Linked DNA regions of Homo sapiens. The protein of the gene in region 1 purifies or fractionates together with the protein of each later gene. This does not show direct contact. Each region holds a gene or a part of one and is shown on either strand. Other genes may lie near its edges.

The links. Proteins that work in one complex are often made in the same cells at the same time.
Region 2: the proteins of COL1A2 (region 1) and PAX3 purify together in Homo sapiens (affinity purification with mass spectrometry; one large-scale study listed by BioGRID and IntAct). This does not show direct contact.

What each region holds. Positions count from the first base shown.
Region 1 is NC_000007.14:94,404,895-94,408,394, forward strand, and holds part of COL1A2 (collagen alpha-2(I) chain precursor), read left to right. Parts: intron 1-304; coding exon 305-358; intron 359-778; coding exon 779-832; intron 833-1,355; coding exon 1,356-1,409; intron 1,410-2,952; coding exon 2,953-2,997; intron 2,998-3,288; coding exon 3,289-3,342; intron 3,343-3,441; coding exon 3,442-3,486; intron 3,487-3,500. UniProt on the Homo sapiens protein: Type I collagen is a member of group I collagen (fibrillar forming collagen).
Region 2 is NC_000002.12:222,296,199-222,300,318, reverse strand, and holds the start of PAX3 (paired box protein Pax-3), read left to right. Parts: upstream 1-1,320; 5' UTR 1,321-1,703; coding exon 1,704-1,788; intron 1,789-1,945; exon of another isoform or gene 1,946-2,172; intron 2,173-3,105; coding exon 3,106-3,341; intron 3,342-4,120. UniProt on the Homo sapiens protein: Transcription factor that may regulate cell proliferation, migration and apoptosis. Involved in neural development and myogenesis. Transcriptional activator of MITF, acting synergistically with SOX10.

The DNA.
Region 1 (3,500 bases):
AAGTATTTACTCTTAAGCACTTTCAAAATGCTATTTAAATACTCTTGCCTCAACAAGATTTTCTAGATTCAAATTAAGTATTCTGCCAAAAGCTGAATATGCCTGACAGAACTCTTAATGTATGGGAAATATTATTTTAATGAAATATTAACTAACCTACTTGTATTAAGGGAAAGATTAAATATATATCTGGATCCATATTTTTATGTGATAACTTTCTCCCCTTTTGTAAAAACCAAGATTCCCCCATTTTGTCTGATAGTTTACCAAGAAGAAGTTGACTCTACAATGTTTTCATGTTTAGGGTCACCCTGGAAAACCCGGACGACCTGGTGAGAGAGGAGTTGTTGGACCACAGGTGAGACTTTTTACATTGGTAGATAGCACAAACATCATAGGCCTATAAGATAGTTGCTAAAACTAGCATCAATCTAAATGACAACATAGATGTCACCCAAACTCATAACATGAATCGAAGGCATCTAATAAAGAAAAAAGCCTAGTTAAAAAAAAATGCATATACATTTTATTCATGCAAATAATGGAATATAAATGACAGCAAGCATACCATAAGCAACTAAATTGTGTTTTCTACAAATACCGTATTATTAGTTACTCACATTAGAGCAAGTTAATTTGTCACTCTGTGCTTAGAGGTATACTAGACTTTGGTTCAAAGCTTGAACTTTGATGAGAATAAATACTTTGGAGGGAAGAAGTCACTGTCTTTTTATTTATGGTAAAACATTATTCACCATCTTCTGTATTTCTTTCTAAGGGTGCTCGTGGTTTCCCTGGAACTCCTGGACTTCCTGGCTTCAAAGGCATTAGGGTGAGCACATTCTTTACTCAGAAGAGAGAAAATGCCTATTAATTTTTGGAAAAAACTCAAGTATGTTTAAAATCTTGGGTGACATATACTCACTTTCAAATCCCTGGAGTTTGCCAAAGGGAAGAAAGAGTTAAAGAGTCAGATTTCTTGAAAGTAAAGTGGGGTGCAATTTTTTCAGTCTGTTCATAGCTACCAAAAAACAGGCTCACTACAGAGAAAATTATATAGAACATGTATTACTTATTGAGTATTTACAACCGTCTGAAAATCATAAAATTATTAAGGATGGAAAAGATGTGAGAGAACACCTAGTCCTCCATCCTTCTCTCTCAATGGCAAGAAAGTTAAGTGACCTATCTAGGGCAATAGACTGAGTTTGCTGGGACCTGGAACACTGGACTTCTTTCTACTGCAGCAGACAAGACTTACCCAAGAGAGATTAATGGCAAAGATATACAATACAATTTTTATTTGACCAAACACTATCATGGAACAGCATTTTATAATAAGGCTTTCCTTTCAGGGACACAATGGTCTGGATGGATTGAAGGGACAGCCCGGTGCTCCTGGTGTGAAGGTAAATATTAAATTAGAAGCACTGTTTTTAAGCACTTGATTGAAATTCCCCATGACCTCCAAAAAAGTATATTATACTGAAGACTACCCATATTACAAAAAGTATTTTTATTTTTTTTCTTTCCTGTACTTCAAATCCCTCAAGGATGGGGACTATGAGAGTCTGTGAAAAAAGGTCAATTATTAATATTTATTAAAATTCAATATCTATTAAACAATTGAGATAAAAATAATATTAATAGTTTCTTGTTCCATTTCCTTTCCTCCCTCTATAATTCCAGTGTATCTCTGCAGCCAAAATAAAAGTAAATAAACATATAATCAGAGATTACGACACTCTGTATTATTTTAAACTGTAAATTCTCCTTTGCCACACACTAATTAGATAGGTACATTCATGTCGCTATACACTTTTCAACCTCTTTCCTGTGATTTATCTGTGCACACTCAAAAAAATTTTAATTAGGTAATTAAAGTCTCAGAAGTGTGTTATCTCTTGGCTAGGCTCTTCTCTGACAGCGTTTTCAACTATAAAATGTTCTCTTTCCTATTAAGGAGATAATGTGATATTAAAGTGAATACCAACGTAATTACAAATTAATGAGTAACGAATACTAGCGGGACCAGAAATGAACATGAATATGGAGAATCTATTCTAACTTTCCAGCTGCCACACAAATGGATAAGGTCAAACTCATTCTCCCAAGAGCCCGATATAACAGCTCAGACTACTAATCACTGTATCATAAAATGTTAGAGCTGCAAGGAGCTTTGGAGACCCCCTCATTTTGCAGAGGTGGGAAACTGAGGCTTCGTGAGAGCAATTGACTTGCCCAAAGTCACACATCTAGAGGTTAGAAAGTCATAGGCTAGAAATGATCCCCCCTTGCCACTTCAATGCTTATTCCCAAAGAATAGACTTCACATAGAATCCTGGAAATTAAGGGTCCTTATGAGGTCTCTTAAACCATATTTCCCCTATATCTAAATCAGATTATCTTTAAAAAAAGTTCTTTTACATGTGCCATAGTATTAAATCCCACTACTACTACTACTACTACCCTGGTTTTTACTCAGGATAAGAATATAGATTGGAAATAAATATGATGGCTCTAAAAAATACCATGAAGCTTCAATTTTTCATGCACATTTTATGAAAGTGATAACACTGAGTGTTCAAAATAACTTTAAAAAGGATAAATATGGTTACATTGAAAGCAAATTTATCCTTTGCCATCTCTTTTTATGATATTGTTTCTAGTATATAATTGATATCCTGAATCTAAGGGAGAAATTGGGGAGGAGGTACACTCAAATAACCACATCTCCTTAGAACCTGGATATGTGGTACTATCTGAATAAAAACTCATGTTAGCACATTTTAAAATCTGTGTGTCTGGCATAATTGAAAAACAATCTATATGTGTAAGAAATATTATGAAGTATATGAATGGTTCAAAGTAAAAAAAATAGAGTAAAATTGCACTATCAGGAAAAATAATTGTTATATTTAATGAACAAAAACTCAATCCTTCTCCATGTAGGGTGAACCTGGTGCCCCTGGTGAAAATGGAACTCCAGGTCAAACAGTAAGTATTGACTACTTCATTGTAAATTTAAATGTGTACACTCTTTATGAGATGGAACTTCTTTAATGTTTTTGCTAATCACTGTATCCTTCAGCATTGTATTCTTTGATGTTTTTCTAATAGCCTTCTGATACTTAATTGAAATCCACTACTGTTTAGTTGGAATTAGAAGGCAACTTATTTATTTTTAGTGTATTCTTGTACAGGTTGGAAACTGAACAAAGCAAATGATGCCTGTGACTTTTTTTAAATTAGCATTCTGGATTTTATTGAAAATATTTCTGCTTCTAGGGAGCCCGTGGGCTTCCTGGTGAGAGAGGACGTGTTGGTGCCCCTGGCCCAGCTGTAAGTGCTTCCATTTTTGTTCAGTTTCATCCTTTTAAAAAATCTTCTAATGGCTGTCATTTAAGTTTCCACCTGATCTTCCCTTTATTTTCTTCTTAGGGTGCCCGTGGCAGTGATGGAAGTGTGGGTCCCGTGGGTCCTGCTGTAAGTTTTGACAC
Region 2 (4,120 bases), on another chromosome or scaffold:
TAAAAGGAAAAGGGGGAACTTGAAGCCCAGAAGTCATTGTTTCCTTTATTTCAAAGGGAAAAACCTGCCCGATTCTCATCCTTTTGATTGATTAAGGCCCTGAATACCTCGCGGCCCCGGAGTGACAGTCCCTGAATAGGCTCGAGCGAATAAAGCGCAGTGCAGAGCGCGGGGCTGGCACTCGGGGGTGTAAAGGAGGCGAGTTCGCTGGCACTTACCAAGTTATAAATAAAAGGCTATGCACAATGGTACCTTCTCTAAGGACAGACAGTCTTTACAACACTCCTGGCGTCATATCCTGCTGGGGACACTTCAGCTCCTAGCCAAGACTTCGTTCCTTTTATTTTTCCAGCAGTTTAGTCTGAATGCCATAATAAATTCCTGAGAACAAACGCTGAACCCGGGCAAAACTTTAACATACAGACACATCTCTGTCGACGCATCGGGGATCTATATGTAGAGATTTAGAACCGCAGCTTGCCAGAGCGGTTTTTACACCAAGAAGAGGAGCCAGGTTTTTTTCTGCACCCTCCCCCATACCCCCAGCCTTCAACTAACGAGTGCTTGGGCCTAGCGACGGCTGCCTGTGCTTCACATTAGCCCCGCTTGCGGACGGAGAAGACAAAAGAACATCAGCGCACCCTGGACTCCTCCCAGGAGGAGCCCCATCGGGAGGACCCCTTAACAAGCCTAGGCCAAGGGGCACTGACCACAGGAAGGAAAGCTAAATATGTCTGGGGCCCCAGATGCCTTCTTATTGGAATTGTGCCCCCTCCAGTGGCAGTAAGCCAAGAGAAATGAGAGCGAGACCTACAGGTAGAAAAAATGAGACATAGAGAGAGACACAGGAAATCACAAGAGGAATAGAGGCTGAGCGAGACACACACACAGAGGCACAGAAAGAGACAGAGAGGGAAATAGAAAGTCAAGGAAAGAGTGATCAGAGAAAGACACACACACACACACACACACACACACACACACACACACACACACACACAGAGTGACACAGACAGAGAGACAGAGACAGAGAGACAGGAACTTCTCCGCCCTCAGCAACTGCCATCTCCCTGGGGCTGTCTCTCTCAGTTTCCACCGGGCCAACCTTCTCTCCTGGGCAAGGGGCGCAGCGCGGGTCCCCCTCGGGGCCAGCAGAGGCCTCGGCACCACCAGAGATGGGAAGAGAAAGTGGTCGCTGTTGCCCAATCAGCGCGTGTCTCCGCCACCCGGGACGGTCTACCCGTCGGCCAATCGCAGCTCAGGGCTCCTGACCAAGCTTTGGGTAAAAGAACTAATAAATGCTCCCGAGCCCGGATCCCCGCACTCGGTGTCACCACAGGAGGAGACTCAGGCAGGCCGCGCTCCAGCCTCACCAGGCTCCCCGGCTCGCCGTGGCTCTCTGAGCCCCCTTTTCAGGGACCCCAGTCGCTGGAACATTTGCCCAGACTCGTACCAAACTTTTCCGCCCTGGGCTCGGGATCCTGGACTCCGGGGCCTCCCCGTCCTCCCCTTTCCCGGGTTCCAGCTCCGGCCTCTGGACTAGGAACCGACAGCCCCCCTCCCCGCGTCCCTCCCTCTCTCTCCAGCCGTTTTGGGGAGGGGCTCTCCACGCTCCGGATAGTTCCCGAGGGTCATCCGCGCCGCACTCGCCTTTCCGTTTCGCCTTCACCTGGATATAATTTCCGAGCGAAGCTGCCCCCAGGATGACCACGCTGGCCGGCGCTGTGCCCAGGATGATGCGGCCGGGCCCGGGGCAGAACTACCCGCGTAGCGGGTTCCCGCTGGAAGGTAAGGGAGGGCCTCAGCGCGCCGCCTGGATCCCAGGGCCTGGGACCGGCTGCCTCACCCCATCCCCAGGCTCCGCAGGCTCCTTTGGTGCTTCCAGGAAGCCCATTCCCTGGGCACCCCACACCCCAAGAAGCACCAGTCGGGGGCGAGGACCTACTCGATTTCCTTTCTGCAAATGGAGCGCGCTGCTCTCTGCAAATCCTGGCGGAGCTGGGCGGTCAGGCCTGCGGCGAGCCGGGGAGACTTGTCCCTGTTGTTTTGGAAATGCCGCGGTGGAGAAGGAGGTGAACCGGCTTCTGAGCGGCAGAAGCAACTTCTCCGCAATTTGTCCATTCGAAATTGTCTCGAAGTTGTCTCGAAATTGTCCCGGCTGCGCCCACACTTGTGAAACATATGTTAGTTCAGGAAGTATTTTTTTTTTTTTGCCCTGCAAAGTTGTGGTGGCTAACGCCGCGCCATTGTGATTGGAATTTTTAGAATAATTAAATAAATTAGAATTCTATGTATCTCAAATAGCATCTAGAAGTTTCTATAACTTGTTTAGGAATCGCCTTTCCGTCCACTTGAAGATTCTGGGAATCCCGGGGAGGCAGGAAGTCTTGCAAGCCTGAGCCGTTTTCAATGGTTTTCCAGGTTAGGGCGCCCCAGCAGAGATGCTCATCGCCCCCGCCACCCACTCCCTTCACACCCAGCCTAGAGTAGAATGTAACACCCAGAGCAAGAATGGGGGCTGGGGGCCCAGGAACAGCCCTGCCGCTGCTGTGGTCTCTGTCCCAAGATGTAACAGGTGACACAGGCACTGCTGCTTGGGCCTCCTTTCTGGACCCTCTTTGACCCTTGGCTGCTGCACTTTTGGCTAGAAACCCCAAGGGCTATCAGCTGGCCCAAGTCCCTTAGAAAGGGAGAGATCCCAATTGGACAGGGATCGGTGGGAGCAGAGTTCATCAAGGCCAGCTCCTGGGTGAACTTCTCTTCGCCAGGAGGCTGTTTCTAGAGCAAGCTAGACTCTCTACCAGCTGCAGGGTCTCCTAAGTTGCCACTCCCCGGGCCCGAAGGGGAAGACGCTTTCTCTGGGGAGAATTATTTTGCCCCATTTGCTGTCTTTACACAAGATTACATGCGCTATATTGCTGAATAATTTGAACAAATGTGATTGAAAGGAGGTCTGGGTCTGGGAGTCCGATGTCGAGCAGTTTCAGCGTCGGTGCTGTAACATGAGGATAGGACAGAAGACTGCGAAATTACGTGCTGCTGTTCTTTGCTTTTTATTTTCCTCCAGTGACTTTTCCCTTGCTTCTCTTTTTCACCTTCCCACAGTGTCCACTCCCCTCGGCCAGGGCCGCGTCAACCAGCTCGGCGGTGTTTTTATCAACGGCAGGCCGCTGCCCAACCACATCCGCCACAAGATCGTGGAGATGGCCCACCACGGCATCCGGCCCTGCGTCATCTCGCGCCAGCTGCGCGTGTCCCACGGCTGCGTCTCCAAGATCCTGTGCAGGTACCAGGAGACTGGCTCCATACGTCCTGGTGCCATCGGCGGCAGCAAGCCCAAGGTGAGCGGGCGGGCCTTGCCCTCCTGGCTCCCAGACTGTGGTCCCCTGTGTTGGGGAAGACCGGGCGGGGGGTAACGGCTGACATCTGGGGCTCTCCAATGAGTTATTTCTGAGGTTTGTGAAGGTGCGTAAAGGCGCGCGTGTGTGTGTGTACGTGTGCACGCGCCCTGGACACTTCTTGATGAACACTTAGGGAAAGCTCTTGCCTTTTTGCAAAGGAAAAATAACATCTGTTTTTTAAAGCCCATAAGCCTTGCAATCCTCATCAAATTATTTTAATGGATAAACACCTAAAGCAGGCAAGCTCTATGTGCCCACCTGTTGCCGATTTCTTCCCTAAGTGTCTTCCCGGCTCCCACCCATGGCACCGTCCTTTCCAAAACGAATGTAAGGAACTTCTTTAGGTTTTATAATGGTTTGTCTCCCAAACCCCGCCCTCAGTCTCCCCCAGTGCAAATTGTTTTCAATGAGTCAAATACTAGGGTGATCAGTTTTCTTTGTAATAAGCCAATGACTCCATTAAAAAAAAATAAGCAGTTTGGTGCTATCCTTAAATTATTTTTGGTTCTGTTTTTAAAAAGAAAGAGTCACACCAGCTAGGGCTGAGTGGGAGGGAATTACACAAGGTCTGTCTTTTCTTCTAGTTGCCACCGGGCAAAATCAAGAGGGTTATGGTAAACCGAAGACCTCCAAACACCCTCCTCTTCCTTCCCACCTACTGAAACACTTTCACAGCCTTTCTAAGAATCTTTGGAACCTTCTTCTTCTTTTTAAAAAAT